Homo sapiens: one gene and its partners. The protein of the gene in region 2 purifies or fractionates together with the protein of the main gene of each other region. This does not show direct contact. Each region holds a gene or a part of one and is shown on either strand. Other genes may lie near its edges.

Region 1 (4,454 bases), on a different chromosome or scaffold from region 2:
CCTCCCCTAGCTTCCCCCCCTTCCTCCAGGGCCTTGGCTTCTGGCTAGTCAGGGGCACTATGTGGGGACAGTTATGTGGCCCCGGGCAGAGAGAGGTCCCGCCGTCTGTTTGCTGAAGGAGGAAAAACAACACTCGGACTATTGATTCAGTCTCACCTTGGCGCTCCTGGCTCAGCAGCCAGTGTTTGCCCTGGCTGCCTGGGCTCGGATTACGCAAGGCTGGTGGGCGTGGAGCAAGCAAGGGGGCAGCTGGGGGCCTCCAGGCCCAGGCAGGGCAGGGCTTGGCGGCCCCAGCGTTCCCCAGGAAACTGTAAAAACGAGTCTGGGGCCCTGACTTTGCTGATAGCGGCCATCTCAGCCATAGAGGGAGGTGAAGCCTCTGTGATCTCCACCCCCGCACCCCCTCAGGACATGGCCCCTAAAAGCACCATCCCATTTAGGGTCACCCATTTTCTTCCTAGGAGCTGTGGGGCTTTGCGAATAACTCCCTATGGCTGAATCTGCTTTGCTGAACTAGGAAACCCTAGTGAGTTGTATAGATGCCATTCATTTAAGAACCTTGAAAAGCCAACATCTTATTCCCATGTAAAACATACCTAGGTGATTTGGAGAATACAGTGACACAAAGAAGAAAATAACAATTACTTGTAATTCTCACCATCTTGAGAGAACCACCGTTAACATTTTTTAGCGTGTGTATCCTTCCAGATTTCGCTTTAGTTTGTATAAATATACATGTATAAATAGTTTTTAAAAAATAAAATGGGATTATGTGTACATACTGCTTTATAATGCATCTTCTTTACCTTGATCATGGTGAACATTTATTCATTTGTTGTTTCTGATTTTGAGTGACTCAGGGCTTGATAGTCTTCATCCTGCTTCTTCTGTTACACTTTTTTTTTTTTTTTTTTTTTTGAGAGGGAGTATCGTTCTGTCGCACAGACTGGGAATGCAGTGGCGCGATCTTGGCTCACTGCAACCTCCACCTCCTGGGCTCAAGCAATTCTTGTGCCTCAGCCTCCCAAGTCGCTGGCACTACAAGCACCCGCCACCACACTTGGCTCATGTTTGTATTTTTAGTAGAGACGAGGTTGCACCATGTTGGCCAGGCTGGCCTCGAACTCCTGACCTCAGGTGATCCACCCGCCTCAGCCTCCCAAAGTGCTGGATGACAGAAGTGAGCCACCATGCCTGGCCCTTCTGTTACATTTCTTATATTCTTGCATGGAGAAAGGATTGGGGGGGATTGTGAGGGCATCCATCTGTCCATCTATGTGGCTGGCCTTGGGGGCTAGATTTCTTCTGGGGAGGACTAATTTTTTTACCCTTCTCCCCCAGATCTCATTTCAGGCCCCAATTGAAACTTGGGGTGGGCAGGGCAGCTTTAGTGCGTAGCAGGGGAGGAACTGACCCTCTCTCCCCTTTTCCCCTCTTGTTCCTCTCAGGGTCGGCACTCTTCACCCTCCCGAGCCCTGCCCGTCTCGGCCCCATGCCCCCACCAGTCAGCCCCGGGCCACAGGCAGTGAGCAGGCACCTGGGAGCCGAGGCCCTGTGACCAGGCCAAGGAGACGGGCGCTCCAGGGTCCCAGCCACCTGTCCCCCCCATGGAGCTGAGGCCCTGGTTGCTATGGGTGGTAGCAGCAACAGGAACCTTGGTCCTGCTAGCAGCTGATGCTCAGGGCCAGAAGGTCTTCACCAACACGTGGGCTGTGCGCATCCCTGGAGGCCCAGCGGTGGCCAACAGTGTGGCACGGAAGCATGGGTTCCTCAACCTGGGCCAGGTAGGTGTTCCCCCACAGGACACTGCCAGGGGGTGGGACCAGAGAAGACAGGGATTCTGGGAGCAGGAGCTGTTGGCCTTGTTTGCTCAGGGGCATCTGGGTAGCCGGCATGTTCTGGGTGGCCATGAGCAAAGCACAGGTGGTTCAGGCAAGCAGCATATCCCAGTGAGAGTGAGTCCTCATGGTCCCCGCATTTTGCTGGGTCCCGGACAGGGAGCAGATGCCCCGCACCCCCGACCGTGGCGAGCCTCCCATGAAGCCGTTGTCCACCCCCGTCCCCCGCCTCCCGGGGACTGACAGATGGAAAGCCCAGCTCAGTCTCCCTGCTCTATTGCAGATCTTCGGGGACTATTACCACTTCTGGCATCGAGGAGTGACGAAGCGGTCCCTGTCGCCTCACCGCCCGCGGCACAGCCGGCTGCAGAGGGAGCCTCAAGTGAGTGTGGCCCCAGCCCCCTCCTGCTGCCACCCTCCCCCTCCTGCTCTCAGGAGCCCCTCTCGCCTCCTGCTCCACCCACACCATCTCTCCCTCACTCCCCCACAGGTACAGTGGCTGGAACAGCAGGTGGCAAAGCGACGGACTAAACGGGACGTGTACCAGGAGCCCACAGACCCCAAGTTTCCTCAGCAGTGGTACCTGGTACGTGGCCTTCTTCGCTGCTGGGACCTCCTCCCCAGATGCACCATCCACCCACTATGAGCTCTTGGATGGAGGAGGCTGTCTTCGAGGCCTCCTCTGATTCGTTTCCTTTCCTCCTGCTGGGCAGTCTCTCCTTGGCCCATCCTAATAAGCAAGCCTGGGGGTGGCCCTCCCAGAGTCCTCTACATTCCCATGGAGTCCAGACAGCCAGTGGCGGCCTTTCAGGAGCAGGGATGGTACAGGAGGAGGTTTTACGGGGGCAAAGGGATTCTTCAAGATGCTCCTAGCCTCACAAAACCAATCATGTCTCATAAGTGATGGGGTGGGTGTCTCCACAGTCTGGTGTCACTCAGCGGGACCTGAATGTGAAGGCGGCCTGGGCGCAGGGCTACACAGGGCACGGCATTGTGGTCTCCATTCTGGACGATGGCATCGAGAAGAACCACCCGGACTTGGCAGGCAATTATGTGAGGAAGTCGGGGAGGGAGGCCGTGATCCCTGCTGAGGTGTGTCTAGAGGCTGTCTTGTTCTATCAGTGAGGTCAGCCTTCTCCTGATGGTGGCCAAATCCTTCTTAGGATCCTGGGGCCAGTTTTGATGTCAATGACCAGGACCCTGACCCCCAGCCTCGGTACACACAGATGAATGACAACAGGTAAGAAGTGGCAGGCCCCGGTCTCTGCCTCCCTTCTCCTTTCTTCCACTAAGGAACAGGGCTGAGCCTGGGTGAGATGTGCCTTGCCTAAAAGGCTGAGGCTTTTCCCACAGTCCTGGCCCACCTGGGGCTCTGAGGGAGGGCTCGGTCAGAGTGGAGATGGCCACAGGCCCAGTGGAGTGTGGGAGATGGGGGCTGGGTACTCAGGGGATGATGGGTGTCGGATGTGCGGATCCCTCGTGCTCCTCAGGCCACATCTGCCGGGCCCTGTTCACCCCATTTGTTCTACTCATGCTACGTGCTTGGCCCTGGCAGGCACGGCACACGGTGTGCGGGGGAAGTGGCTGCGGTGGCCAACAACGGTGTCTGTGGTGTAGGTGTGGCCTACAACGCCCGCATTGGAGGTGAGTGTGGGCCTGGGCCACCCTGTCTTCAGGAGGGCCCTTCAGTGGAATTTTTCCCGCCCACTTCCCATCTGGCCAATGCCTGCCACTTTCCCACTGTGGATCCTTTGATCACGTGGCTGTTCCATGGAGGGTTCCCAAAGGGTCAAAGACTGAAAGAGCTGGACCCCTGTGGAGTGAGGGTTTCCTAGCAGGAGTCTCCTGAAATCCTCACGACCCACTGTGAGTCCTCACGTGGCAGATCCTTGATCACCAGGCTCTTTTGGGAACCAGAGACTCTTTCTAGTCCTGAATGTGTGGTTGGGGGCAGGAGGTGTTCTCTTTTTCCTTCTCTGGGTCTTGTCTTTGAAAGGCAGAGGCAAACAGGTAGTTGGGGGTTCAGGGTTTCTCAGCATCAGCCTCCACCCTTCCCTTACTCATCCCCTGGGGTGCAGGGCTGGGTGTGCTCCTTGGGGTGGGGGCCCTGACAGCTGGACCCATGCAGCATCCCTCTTCGTGCCCCCCCTTCACGGCCAGGGGTGCGCATGCTGGATGGCGAGGTGACAGATGCAGTGGAGGCACGCTCGCTGGGCCTGAACCCCAACCACATCCACATCTACAGTGCCAGCTGGGGCCCCGAGGATGACGGCAAGACAGTGGATGGGCCAGCCCGCCTCGCCGAGGAGGCCTTCTTCCGTGGGGTTAGCCAGGTGAGGTGGGGATCTGTCCAGCCCCTGCGGGCAGGTTGGGTGCTGTCTTCCGTACCTATCTTGTGTTTTTTGGTTTGTTTTATTTATTCTCATGTTTAACTTTACACAAAGCATGTTTATTGAAACATTAAGGGACAGAAGAAGAGTAGAGTGCATATACCACTTGGACTTGCCTAATTAAAAAACACATTTTTTTTAGAAATGAGGTCTTGCTGTGTTACCCAGGCTGGTCTCAAACTCCTGGCCTCAAGCGATCCTCCCGCCTTGGCCTCTTGGTCTGATT
Region 2 (5,409 bases):
CTACACAGAATGCCCTTTTTTCTTGTTAAAATGGAAGCATTCTGGCTGGGCGTGGTGACTCACGCCTGTAATCCCAGCACTTTGGAAGGCCAAGGTGGGCAGATCACTTGAGGTCAGGAGTTTAAGACCAGCCTGCCCAACATGGTGAAACCCCGTCTCTACTAAAAATACAAAAATTAGCCAGGCATGGTGATGAGCACCCGCAGACCCAGCTACTCAGGAGGCTAAGGCAGGAGAATCACTTGAACCTGGGCGGCAGAGGTTGCAGTGAGCTGAGATAGAGCCACTGCACTCCAGTCTGGGTGACAGATTGAGACTCTGTCTCAAAAAAAAAGAAGCATTCTTACCTAAGACCATTGCCTCCACTCATGCTTTAAGATCCCATTCCCTTGTACCTTCTCCACAACTTTGCAACTATTACAATCCCCTTCATTTTCTACAACATTAGATCTTCCATCTCTAATAGATGATAATGGTTGGCATGTGATCAGGTCATAAAAAGTCATTCACTGAGCCAGGTGCAGTGGCTAACACCTGTAATCCCAGCATTTTGGGAGGCCAAGGTGGGAGAAATGCTTGAGCCCAGGAGTTCAAGACCAGCCTGGGCAACATAGCAAGACCCCATCTCTATAAAAATACAAAAATTATCCAGGAGTGGTGGGGTACACCTGTAGTCCCAGCTACTTGGGAGGCTGAGGTGAGAAGATTGCTTGAGTCTGGGAAGTCGAGGCTGTGGTGAGCCGTGATCGTGTCACTGCACTCCAGCCTGAGTGACAGAGTGAGACCCTGTCTCAAAAAAAAGAAAAAAAATCATTAGTTGGACCCATCCCTTTACCCAGCGTTCCCCTCTAGCCACCATCCCACTTCTCAGTTCCTCGTTCTCTGCCCCTGATGGTTATCTGTACTTGCTGTTTCATCTTTGTCATCTCTTTTTTTCTTTTTTTTTTTTTGAGACAGAGTCTCGCTCTGTCACCCAGGCTGCAGTGCAGTGGCGCGATCTCAGCTTACTGCAAGCTTTGCCTCCTGGGTTCACGCCATTCTCCTGTCTCAGCCTCCCGAGTAGCTGGGACTACAGGCACCCGCCACCATGCCCAGCTAATTTTTTGTATTTTTAGTAGAGACGGGGTTTCACTGCGTTAGCCAGGATGGTCTCGATCTCCTGACCTCACGATCCACCCACCTCGGCCTCCCAAAGTGCTGGGATTACAGGCCACTATTAACTTATTGTCAAAATACATCACTCTCTAGGATCCTGACACTACACTTGCCCTGTTTCCCCTTCCACTTTACTGGATGCTCTTTTCCAGTCTCCCTTGCTTGTTCTTCCTCTCTACCATCTCTAAACAATGCTGTATTTTAGGGTTGCATCCTCTGCTGCTGCTGTTTCTTTGTCTTCTCTCTGCTCAGTTTATCCTGCTCCATGCTTTTAAAATTCATCTACAGTTGATACTCATTATTTGCAGATTCTGTATTTATGAATTTGCCTACTTGCTAAATTAATTTGTAATCCCCAAATCAATATTTACACTGCTTCTGTGGTCATTCATGTACATGCACAATTAGTGAAAATGTGTCTTCTGATGCTCTCGATCTCAACTGAGGGTGAATAAGGTGATGCTCTATCTTTTTGTTTCAGCTCTCATGCTGAAACAGTCTATTTAGTGCTACATTTTTTTTTGTATTTTTGTGCCTTTTATTTGTGATTTTGCTGTTTACAGTGGCCCCCAACTATAGGCTGAAGTGTTATCTAGTATTCCTAAGTGCAAGAGGACTGTAATGTGCCTTATGGAGAAAATATATTTATGAGACAAGCTTCATTCAGGCATGAGTTAGTGCCGTTGGCTATGAGTTCAATGCTAATGAATAAAATATATATATTAAATAAAGTTTCTTTAATCAGAAACACACATAAAAACAAGATTATATATTGATCAGTTGATGAAAATATGACTATTTACAACAGTTGCAGGAACCTAACTCTGTATTTTCCCTAGGAACAATTGTTCAGTATTTGCTAATTCATTGTTCATGGTGACTTTATAGAACAGGACTACTGTGAATAAGAATCAACTATATATATTATCGGATCTAATTTATATGTTTGAACTCCGTACTCATATATTCTACTACTCTTCAACTCTATGTTTGGATGTTTAATAGGTATTTAAACTTAACATGTCCCAGACAGAACTCATGTTCCCTTCCAAAATCTTTCCAATCTCAATACATTGTACAATTAGTTATCTATCCCATGCACAGGTCAGAAGCCTAAGAGTCATCCTTCATTGTTATTACGCCTGACATAAGTACTGATACTCTGTCATCAAGTCCTGTCAATTCTAGTTTCTGTATATATCTTGAATCCAAGTGTTGATCGCTATCTTACATATAGCCCCAGTCCAAACTACATCTCTTACCTAAGCTACTGCAATAGCTTCCTAACCGATCTCCCTGCCTCCATTCTACCCTTCTGCCCATGTAGATCCTCTACGTAGAAGCCAGAGTGAGCTTTCAAAAGCACAAATTGTATCATGTGACTCCATTGCAACCAGAATAAAGTTCAAACTCCAAGCAATGGTCCTCTATCATCTGGCACCCAACTGTTCTCTGACATCATCTCTCCATGCTTTGTTTTCTGTGTTCCCTCCTCATCAGCCCTTGTCCTGTTCCTTAAGAATACCAAGCTTGCATCTTTCTTGGGACCTTTCTGTTTACTGCTATTTCCACTACAATGCTCCTCCCTCATTTTCATGACTGCTTTCTTTACATCACTCAGATCTTTCCAATGTGGCTACTTTTTGAGCAGCTCTCCTATTCATTCCTTTAATATTGCCCTTTTTATTTGCATGCTTGTTGCCTGTCTTCCCCAGGTAGAATGAAATTTTCTTAAAGACAGAAAACTTTATCTTTTTTTTTTTTTGAGATGGAATTTCGCTCTTGTTTTCCAGGCTGGAGTGCAATGGCACAATCTCGGCCCACTGCAACCTCCGCCTCCTGGATTCAAGCAATTCTCATGCCTCAGCCTTCCTAGTAGCTGGGATTACAGGCGTCTGCCACCATGCTTGGCTAATTTTTGTATTTTTAGTAGAGACAGGGCTTCACCATGTTGGCCAGACTGGTCTCAGACTCCTGACCTCAAGTGATCCACCCACCCTGGCCTCCCAAAGTGCTGCTGGGATTAGAGACGTGGGCCACTGCGCCCAGCCAGGATCCTCAGTATCTTTAGATATTATTTTAATAATATTCTTATACATCATAGAGTTTCAGTAAATAGTTACTGACTTGACTCTTGATTAACTGGGGACTCTGATAAAGTATCATACATGGTTGACTGGTAGAAAATGAATTAGGTTCCGATAAAGAGAAAAAGAGAAAAGAAAACAGTAATTTGTTTAAAACAAACCTAAAACAAACAGAAACCCCTAATACTATGTCACCATATATACAGTTATTGTTTAGTTCTATAATAATTTTTCAATAAGTAAATTATAACTAGGTAAATATGAACATTAAAATTTAATACCTCTTTGACTTGTGCCTGGTATAATTTGTTATTTGAATTGTAAAGGATGCTAATTTTATCTACCTCTTTTGATCAGGAATAGTTATCTAATAACTACAGCCTGTTTTCTTAATGGAAAATTGATATTAATTGTTCCTCTGTTAGGAAGAAGAAAGCATGTAGGCCATTTTGAAGCACAAATACAGTTTAGAGTCCTTAAAAATGGTGTTAGCATCATGGATTTATGTGACCACATGATTGTCAACTCACATCTTTTGGAACTTAGTCTAGGCATTTATAAAGCAAATTATTTTACATATTAAGCTTAAAAATGGTAGAGTAAGTAAGATAATCTCTAAGCATTAAATTCATGATCTATAGGACAACCAGGTTATCAGCAAGCAGAATGGAGTGAGTTCAGATATATAGAATCTTAAGTTGGAGGGAATTTTGCTCCCGTGAGCCATAGTACAGTGAATAAATTAAGTGTAATCTGGATTAGAACTGAATACCAAGACAGACAGACGTTTGACGATGTTTGTGATGTCCTGATGTTCTTTAATCATATATCTGATATTCTTATATTCTATTCCCTTCAGGCTGGCCCTCACTGCCTTGAATAAATTTGAAGAAGCAGTTACAAGTTATCAAAAGGCATTAGATCTTGACCCTGAAAATGATTCCTATAAGTCAAATCTGAAAATAGCAGAACAGAAGTTAAGAGAGGTATCCAGTCCTGTAAGTTGTTAATGCCAAATGAGTGAAGTATTTTCTGTCATTCACAATTTATTGTAATTGTAGATACTGGACTGATTCTCAGATATAATTGTTTTACAGACAGGAACTGGACTGAGCTTTGACATGGCTAGCTTGATAAATAATCCAGCCTTCATTAGTATGGTGAGTATACTTTCTTTTCTGCCTCTACTGGCTATGTTTTCCATAGACTATGTAGCTATGCAATTTTTTTTAGAAACAAGTGAGTTTTTGTGGTGGTGGTTGTAGTGGAGTATTGATATAAGGCTATAGCAGGGTTCTGTTTTTTTATTTCCAACTTTTATTTCAAGTGCAGGGGTAAATGTGCAGGATGTGCAGGTTTGTTACATAGGTAAAACGTCTGCCATGGTAGTTTGCTGCACAGATCCTCCCATTACCCAGGTATTAAGCCCAGCATCTATTAGCTGTTCTTCGTGATCCTTCCTCTCCTCCCATCCTCTGCCCTCCAACAGGCCCCAGTGTGTGTTGTTCCCCTACATGTGTCATTGTGTTCTCATCATTTGGCTCCCACTTGTAAGTGAGAACATGTGTTATTTGGTTTTCTTTTCCTGTGTTAGTTTGTTAAGTAAAATGGTAAAATGGCCTCCAGCTCCATCCATGTCCCTGCGAGGGACATAATCTTATTTCTTGTTTTGGCTGCATAGCATTCCATGGTGTATATGTACCGCATTTTCTTTATCCAGTCTATCATTGATAGGCATTTGCATTGATTCCATGTCTTTGCTATTGTGAATAGTGCTGCAGTGAACATACGTACGAATGTGTATTTACAGTAGAAAGATTTCTATTCCTTCGGGTATATACCCAGTAATGGGATTGCTGGGTCGAATGGTATTTCTGCTTCTAGGTCTTTGAGGAATCACCACACTGTCTTCCACAATGGTTGAACTAATTTACATTTCCACCAACAGTGTTAAAAGCATTCCTTTTTCTCCACAACTTCGCCAGCATCTGTTGGTTTTTGTTTTTTTTGTTGTTGTTGTTGTTTGTTTGTTTTTTGAGACAGAGTTTCACTCTTGTCACCCAGTCTGGAGTGCAATGGTGTGATCTTGGCTCACTGCAACCTCCACCTCCTGGGTTCAAGCGAATCTCCTGCCTCAGCCTCCTGAGTAGCTGGGATTATAGGCACC
Region 3 (4,197 bases), on a different chromosome or scaffold from region 2:
TTATCATAAGATTGCAGCAATCCAGACACATCTTCAGGCTCCACTTGTAGTTCTCTTGCTATTTTCACCGCATCTGCAGTTACTGCCGCCACTGAGGTTTTGAACTTCTCAAAGTCATGAAAGTTGTAATTAACTTCTTTCAAACTCTTGTTAATGTTGATATTTTGACTCCCATGAATCACAAATATTCTGAATGAATGGCATCCAGAATAGCAAATCCTTTTCAGAAGGTTTTTATTTTGCCCAGATCCATCAGAGGAATCACTATCTATGAAAGCTTTTGCCTTATAAAATGTATTTCTTGGATGATAAGACTTGAAAGCTGAAGTTATTCTTTGATCTATGGCTGCAGAATGGATGTTGTGTTAGCAGGCAGAAAAACACTAATCTCATACATCTCCATAGAGCTCTTGGGTGACCAGGTGCACTTGTCAATGAGCAGTAATATTTTGAAAGGAATCTTTTTCTGAGCAATAGATCTCCGCAGTGGGCTTAAAATATTTAGTAAACCTTCCTATAAACGGATGTGCTACCATCCAGGCTTTATGGTTCCTTTTATAGAGCAAAAACATTATATTTAGTTTAATTTTAAGGACCCTAGGATTTTTGGAATGATAAATGAACATTAGTTAGCATTGCATTGGCCCCTAACAAGAAATCAGTCTCTCGTTTGAAGCCAAGCATCAACTTTTCTCTAGCTATGAAAGTCCTGGATGACATCTTCCAACATAAGACTTTCATCTACATTGAAAGTTTGTTTTTAGTGTAACTACCTTCATCAATGATCTTAGCTAGATCTTCTGGATAACTTGCTGTAGTTTCTACTTTAGCAGTTGCTGCTTCACCTTATGCTTGTCTGTTGTGGAGACAGCTTGTTTCCTTAAACTCCATGAATCAACCACTGCTAGCTTCAGACTTTTCTTCTGCAGCTTCCTTACCTTAGCCTCCATAGAATTGAAGAGAGAGGGCCTTGCTCTGCGTTAGGCTTTGGCTTAAGATAGTGTTGTGGCTGATTTGATCTATTAAAAAAAAAAAAACTCAGGCTTTCTCTATACCACTTTTCTTATGATTCATGTGTTCACTTGAGTAGCACTTTTAATTTCAGGAACTCTTCCTTTGGATATACAACTTGGCTGTTTGGCTCAAGAGGCCTAGCTTTCAGCTTGCCTTGGCTTTCAACATGCTTTCCTCACTAAGCTCCAATCATTTATAGCATTTGATTGAGAGAGAGAGAGAGATGTACAGCTCTTCACCTGAACATTTAGAGGCCATTGGATGGTTATTAACTGGCCTGGTTTTAATAGTGTTATGTCTCAGGGAATAGGGAGGCACATGGAGAGGGAGAGAGATGGGGAATGGCCAGTGGAGCAGTTGGAACACACACGTCTGTGCCCTCAAACAAAACAGTAACATCAAAGATTACTGATCACAGATCACCGTAACAGATACAATAATAATGAAGACATTTGAAATGTGAGAAGTACCAAGATATGACACACACACAGTAAGCACATTCTGTTAGGAAAATAACACCTATAGATGTGCTCAATGTAGGCTTGCCACAAGCCTTGTTTGTAAAAAAACAAAAACAATTATCTTCAAAGCATGATAATAAAGTGAAGCAGAATAAAACAAGGTATGCCTGGTTTTTGTTTTGTTTTGTTTTGAGACAAGGTCTTTCTCTGTCACCCAGGCTGGAGTGCAGTGGCACAATCTCATCTCACTGCAGCCTCCAGCCTCTGGGCTCAAGTGGTCCTCCCACCTCAGCCTCCGAAGTAGCTGGGTCTACAGGCATGTGCCACCACACCACACCTGGCTAATTTTTGTAGAGACCAGGTTTCACCATGTTACCCAGGCTGGTTTTGAAGTCTTGAACTCAGGCGATCCATCCACCTCGGCCTCCCAAAGTGCTGGGATTACAGGCATGAACCACAGCACCTGGCCATGTATTTTCATTTAACCAGTACTAAATAACTACATGTCTTTGGCAGCCTATAATGTAGCATCCCATTTTTAAAAATAGAAGTGTGTATTCAGGGTGCACTCAATAGGATTACATCTGGCTGGCAGTCCCTTCCTACTTCAGTCCATTATCCTGCTACCAGAATGATCTTCATGGTTTCATTTAAAAAAAAAAAAAATGAGATCCTGTTTCTGTCTTAAAGTTCTCTTCTAATTCCTTGTATTAATCAGGATTCTCCAGAGAAACAAGACCAATAGGATGCATATGTGTATACACATATATGTATAGCTCTCTCCCTCATATATACACATATCATGTATATACATATATATCATATATGTACATATATATATATATATATGAGGGAGAGAAAGATTTATAAGGAATTAGTTCATGCACTTAGGCTGAGAAGTCTCATGATCTTCAGTCAGCAGGCTGGAGACCCAGGAATGCCAATGGTGTAGTTCAAGTCCGAGTCCAAAGGGTTGAGAACCAGGAAAACCAATGATAAAAGTTCCAGTCCACAAGCTACCTGGCTAAAGACCCAGGAAGACTGAATGTTTCAGTTTTAGTGCAAAGGCAGGAAAAGACTGATGTCCCAGTTCAATCAGGCAAGAGAAATTATCCTTACTTGAGCCTTTTTTGTTCTATTCAGGCCTTCAATTCATGAGAGCCACCAACATTAGAGAGGGCAATCTGCCTTACTCAGTCTACTGACTTAAATGTTAATCTCATCCAAAAACACCCTCATAGATATGCCCAGAATAATGTTTGACCACATATCTGGGCACCCTGTGGCCCAGTCAACACATTAAATAAACCATCACATCCCTTCATGTAGAAAAGAGTGGTTTGGACCATAGGCTCAGGAGTTAAACCACCTCTGAGCCTACCACTTTTGTGCAACTCACCTCACCTCTCTGCCTTTCACCTCTCTGTAAACTAGAGCAGCTCCCGAATGTCCATCTAGGAAGGCTTGGGGTGAGCAACCTGATTAGAAGGGAACAATGTGACTTAAAACTGCATATTTGCTTAGCAAACCTATGACTTTTCTCAGAATATACAGTTTGCTTGTGATGGAGGGCTATTAATATTTATAAGGAAACCAAATCCCCATTCACTTAAGCCATCCACTCCTACCACTGTAATTGAATATTACCTACCTTTCAGAATAATTGCAAGGTTTTGTGTCTTGATCATTATGAAAAATGTGGCAGGTATTATTACTAATAAAGAAGTACCCAACTATGGGAATGATTGTTCCTTCCTTATGAATGAGAGCAGCTCTCTGTTCAATACGATTCATACTCAAGTTCTAATAAACTTTCTTTAGCAAGAGAGCAAAGAGTATGGTACAGTCAGTCCACCCAGGTTGCCTGTTAACCTGGTGCTTGAAGGAAAAAAAGTAAGAATTTGCCCTCATCTAATTCCTCACTTGCCCTCAAACATGTCATACTACTTGACAATGGGGCTTTCCCACATTTGTCCCACATTTGCATGGTCTGCCTTATCTCTTACCTGGCGAACTCCTACACTCCTTCAAGACTTGCTCCAAAATGCACTTGCTAGATCTTCTGACATCAACTGCCACCTTGGGCTATAAGTTACGTGTGTCTCTTCCCCCACTAGACAATTACCTGATGGAAGAATATTGTTCTTAAGATGTTAAGATGGTGTATGTGTGGCATAGTATTTGTTCCTAAATGTAAAAGTTATTAAACAAGTTTTCTGAAAGTCTGAAGCTTTATTGTGTTTATTGTGATTGTGTTGTATTCCTGACATGTTGCTGGCTACATATTTTAACAGCTTTAAAAGTAATTTACCTTATGAATGTGCACTAAAAACGTACATTTTAGATATACTAACATTTTAAGTTCGGTATTTATGAATTTGGAATATTCAAGATTAAATGTAGAAAATTTATATTTCATTTATATTTTTCTAAAGAAGTTTTAATTGTAAGGAATTCTTTTTTCCAGTAAGGAAGATACAGTTGCTATCTCTTGCTCCAGTTGGAGGGCATCCTGAATTCCCATTTGTTCAGACGCTTTTCACAACTTGGAGCTTCTGGCATCTCCACAAAAATAATACTTTGACTACACAAGGCCAGGAATACTTTTTTGAGTTGGGGATACCCCAAACATTTATCTGTTCAATACAGTTGTCCAAAGACAAGGAATGTACTCTTGATTTGGGTTCTTTGTCACCTCAAAAATCTATATTACACCTTAGAC
Region 4 (4,454 bases), on a different chromosome or scaffold from region 2:
ATTCTACAGAATTTCATTGGCCTTCACTTATTAAAATGTTTTTTGAATTATTTATTTATATATATAATGAAATATTTACTTAGAAGAAATCACAAAAAATTACGAACTTATATGAACTAACACCACAAATATCACCAAATCTAGAAAAATAACGTAATGTTTTTATTAACTACCTGACACTTCTAAATACCTTTTTTCCTGCATTTTTGACTTCATCTGTTTTGACCACCTCTTCATTTGGCAATGATTTTATAATATTTTATAGACGGAACAAAAAGATCCTCTGGCATTCAGGTTTCTTGCTTCATGGGTGGCAATTTTGCATGCCATTTTATCTAGAACTTCCAAATTTTATAAGCATAAGATGTGTTAGTTAAACGAAGATGGGATCATGTATGTTGTGAGACATGAAACTTCAACCTTCATCCATAGATGTGTTTGTTTCTCCTTCACTCTCCACATGCCTGTGGCACTGGGCTATGGGACTCATTCATATCCTGCAGTGCAATAAGACATTCAATGTACAGACATTCGTGTCATGATAGAGGTTGAATTCATATGATGGGTGGTAGGAATATTCCTGGAAGCCATTTCTACACTGAGATGGCTGGTCATAAGTTCCCTAGAATCAAAATGAACTGCACATCAATATATTCTGCTAAACCCAAGTTAATTGTGTCCCCATTCTAATTTGCCTTTCCATATCCCCAAACTGCCCTTGCATTGGCCTTTACTTTTTATATTAGGGCAGGTAATTATTTGTAGGCAGGTACCTATTTAGGAACTTGGTAAATATGAGATTCAGCTGCTGTTTTACTGGGCTTAATTATCTTGACGTAGTCATTTATGTTCCCCAAAAGTATTAATATTATTGTTTTCTCCAAAGTGCCAAGGAAGGTTAAGGAGAAAGTCACAATTCTTCCTTTAAACATCCCATGCAACCTTGTATTTTTTAAAAGCTTTTCCTGCCTCTCCCTGCTTTAGCAGATTATTTTCATTGTGTGTGAATGTCAACCCTGCTTCCTAATGTTTGTTTCTATTCAGATGTGCAAAGGAAGCAGGTTCAGGTTCAGGGTGACAGTCCTACAGAGCCTTTGTTAGCAGGGACAGGCCAGACTTGAATGTTTTCAATTGTTTAGCTCTCTAGGTAAAGACCAGGGCAGTAAGGTGATCCTGCAACCTCCTCCAGTTATGGGTAACTGACATTGGATTTCTTACTCTATTCTTCTGATTCTTGAGATCATATCTCAGAGCTTTTCTTGATTTCTTAATGTACTGCATGTTCCCATAGTTAACAAAGATTTATTTTACACTGGCTATATAATAGTGGTCTTGTTGAAAATTTTGACAAAGGCCTTGTCAGCAGCTATAGCTGTAGTATCACATTCTTTTTCTGACTGTATTTTTTTGGACAAAATTAATAAGAGGAACAGGATTTCTTTAAACAATTCTAACAAAGTCCTTTAGAACAATCATGATTCTATGTGACCAAATCCTGGCCCCCCATCTGAAAAGATGAATTCATATCAAGTGAGGGAATACTATGACCTACTTTGGAAAGTTATTTTTAAAAATCTTTTTAATAATTTGTGACATTCAAGCTGTGTTTTCACTGAGCATTGAGATAGATGTCCAGGAATTGTAACTTTGCCATAGTGGGAGCAATTCCTAAAAGTTGTGTGGTAGACAAGTGCCAGTCAGATCCCAAAGGGATCTTCTGCTTTCAGCACCATGGGCTTTAATTATACCTTGGATAGCCAGGAAACATCACAGACCTGAGAAAGACTGGAATAACCTGCTCCTTTAAGACCACTTAGTTTTTGTCCATTTTAAAATCAGCTTACTTGATAGATTCATGGGTTTCTGGTTTAGCTGGATTGTATCTAGTCTTTGTTCTATGTAAAATTGTGCAGGCTGAATATTATTTCCAATGTATCTTCTCATAAAATATCTCACTGTAAAGACGCTGTGGGTGCCCTTTACATTTAGAATCAAATGTGCTCTTTATCATCTGATGAATTAATAAAGACTTCTGACCGTATTTCCTTGAAGGGAAAAGCCTTGACGTGTTTGTTCCAAATAAAAATGGCTCATATGTTTGGGAAGGCATTTCCAAGTCAAATAAACTACTTTCAGTATTAAAAGCAAAGAAGTAAATTAATTGTAACCATGGTTCTTCTTCAGGTCAGACAGATGGGTGACAAATCTGGTAGGCTCAATCAAAGGATTCTTCTTTCTGCAGGCAGAATGCCTAGTCATTGAGTTGAAGCATAAACTAGCTCCTCGCATTTTCAGTCAGACCATCTTATAGCTAGTGTATTTATATAGGCTCTCTTTCTGCTTTCTGTAATAATTTAATTCCTACCCAGAAGGCTGCAGAACACTGAGAATAACTCATGTTCAGAGCATTTCTTGGCTCTTGAGCTATAGGTATTGGTGCCAGCTATGTGTCTGTGCACATCAAATGTTGCCCTCTGGAGGTAGAGATATGGCTAAATTTCTGATGACGACTTGGATCTTTGTGCAAAGTAGAAATCCAAAAGATACATTTTCAAGTTGCAGTGGGGCATGATGACTGGAGGCCATGAATTATAACCTTCTTATGGCACATGATGTTGTGGCATCTGGATATGTTTTCAGCTTCTCCTGATCTACCATATCAGCCACTCATTCAAGAGACGTGGTCAAGACTTCGTGTTAGATAAGTGCATGAATGGGAATCAGTGGTTAAAATAATGACCCTTCCCTCAAATTAACTATTTTAGATTTAAACCTATGCTACTTAATGGATGTAAGAGACTGAGTTATTAGGATACAAGTCTCCTTTTTTAATTACTTCTAAGGATAAGTTGACATTTCAAAAAAAAGTAAAAAAACTTCTAAAGTACTGAAGGAAAAAGATCAAATGGAATTTTAATAACGTTTATTTTCAGGCTGTGAAAGGTGATTAGAGAAAAATAAATGAATAGTCTTTGATTCCCTTTTCTTAGGATGTTTTAATGAGTTTGGCCAAAGCTGTTGCCAATGCAGCTGCCATGTTGGTACTAAAGGCAAAGAATGTTGCCCAAGTGGCCGAAGACACTGTCCTACAGAACAGGGTAATTGCTGCTGCCACCCAGTGTGCCCTCTCCACCTCCCAGCTTGTGGCATGTGCCAAGGTAAGCCAGCTGGCACCCCAGCCCTTTCTACCCAGTATCACCTGCTGTTACCTGCCTCCAGGCATTTGGTGTGTAGCAGGGGCAGAATTTGTTTAAATAGTCCGAGATTTAGAGCTTCCTTAAAGTGTCTTAAGTGATGATAGGATTTTAGCATAAGCGGTCAAATTCTGCTTTTATCATTTGTTCTTTGCCCAAGTCCTCAGGCCGTTGGTACTTTTCACTAGTTCATTTCTATATGCAAATTGCTGTGTCTCCCCTTTGGACTTCTCAGTGCATCTTTACACCTGCACAAAAATAGTTCTTGCAATGCGTGGTACAGCATTACAAATGGGTTCAGAAATAATCCACAGAGTTTATGGGAACCCTTTCTAGGCTGCACAGGGTCCGAGTGGGGATTTTAATTGTTGCCAGGGTATACACACTCAGTGTGTCATACATCACCTCATTACATCTCCCCGGTAATCCTGCAAATTAAGCACCATTATCTCTAGTTTACTGATGAGGAATCTGAGGCCCTTAGATGTCAGTAGGTTAAGGCCACAGAAGTAGTAAGTGGCAGAACTAGAGTTACAACTCAAGTCCATCTGCCTCCAAATACGCTTTCCCCTCTACTTCATGTGTCCTCTCGGTGATGATGCAGCAGAAGATGGGAAATGTCCGTTTCTGGAATTGATGGCCTGTCATGTTGTATAGATCTGTGATCTGGCTCAGCTTGGCATCAATAGCCTGTGGTAAGATTTGCAGCATCGTCTCCCTCAAGCTTTCATTGTCCACGCTGCTAGAATTTACAAGGAACTGACAGAACCCCCCTGTTCTTTAAAGGACTATGAGGCAGAGTTTCAGGTGTTTCTGGGAATAGAAATAGAATTCTTTTAGGTAGTCTTTGTATCCCAACTCAAAAGACTCAATTCAAAGGATCCTAAAATGAAGGAGGTATAATTGGGAAATCTCAGAAATTTCTCTGTATGGAAGTAGGGCAGTAGTATGGACTGTCACATGTGACTAATGAAGTTATAAATTAGTGGGACATGTCAAATCACAAGGATGAAGTAGAATAGCAGAGCGTGTGAGACTGAAGCAATGGTTTCATTGAATGAAATGGTCAGGTAAGTAAGAAACCGAGCAGTGGTCCTGTAAGTAAGAAACCGAGGCCCAGAGCAGGAAGGGCTTTGATGGGACTGCGGGGGCACATGGAGAGGGACCAGGATTCAACCACAGTGCCCAAAACCTGTTCCTGTCTCACTTCAGGTTGTGAGCCCCACTATTAGCTCCCCTGTGTGCCAGGAGCAGCTGATT

What was found. The genes of interacting proteins can lie anywhere in the genome.
Region 1: the proteins of SGTB (region 2) and FURIN purify together in Homo sapiens (affinity purification with mass spectrometry; one large-scale study listed by BioGRID and IntAct). This does not show direct contact.
Region 3: the proteins of SGTB (region 2) and USP15 purify together in Homo sapiens (affinity purification with mass spectrometry; one large-scale study listed by BioGRID and IntAct). This does not show direct contact.
Region 4: the proteins of SGTB (region 2) and TLN2 purify together in Homo sapiens (affinity purification with mass spectrometry; one large-scale study listed by BioGRID and IntAct). This does not show direct contact.

What each region holds. Positions count from the first base shown.
Region 1 is NC_000015.10:90,874,134-90,878,587, forward strand, and holds part of FURIN (furin isoform 1 preproprotein), read left to right. Parts: intron 1-1,448; 5' UTR 1,449-1,607; coding exon 1,608-1,784; intron 1,785-2,121; coding exon 2,122-2,220; intron 2,221-2,328; coding exon 2,329-2,424; intron 2,425-2,762; coding exon 2,763-2,891; intron 2,892-3,001; coding exon 3,002-3,078; intron 3,079-3,393; coding exon 3,394-3,482; intron 3,483-3,998; coding exon 3,999-4,171; intron 4,172-4,454. UniProt on the Homo sapiens protein: Ubiquitous endoprotease within constitutive secretory pathways capable of cleavage at the RX(K/R)R consensus motif. Mediates processing of TGFB1, an essential step in TGF-beta-1 activation.
Region 2 is NC_000005.10:65,679,487-65,684,895, reverse strand, and holds part of SGTB (small glutamine-rich tetratricopeptide repeat-containing protein beta), read left to right. Parts: intron 1-4,101; coding exon 4,102-4,240; intron 4,241-4,339; coding exon 4,340-4,402; intron 4,403-5,409. UniProt on the Homo sapiens protein: Co-chaperone that binds directly to HSC70 and HSP70 and regulates their ATPase activity.
Region 3 is NC_000012.12:62,412,693-62,416,889, forward strand, and holds the end of USP15 (ubiquitin carboxyl-terminal hydrolase 15), read left to right. Parts: 3' UTR 1-3,697; downstream 3,698-4,197. UniProt on the Homo sapiens protein: Hydrolase that removes conjugated ubiquitin from target proteins and regulates various pathways such as the TGF-beta receptor signaling, NF-kappa-B and RNF41/NRDP1-PRKN pathways.
Region 4 is NC_000015.10:62,704,096-62,708,549, forward strand, and holds part of TLN2 (talin-2), read left to right. Parts: intron 1-2,990; coding exon 2,991-3,158; intron 3,159-4,406; coding exon 4,407-4,454. UniProt on the Homo sapiens protein: As a major component of focal adhesion plaques that links integrin to the actin cytoskeleton, may play an important role in cell adhesion. Recruits PIP5K1C to focal adhesion plaques and strongly activates its kinase activity.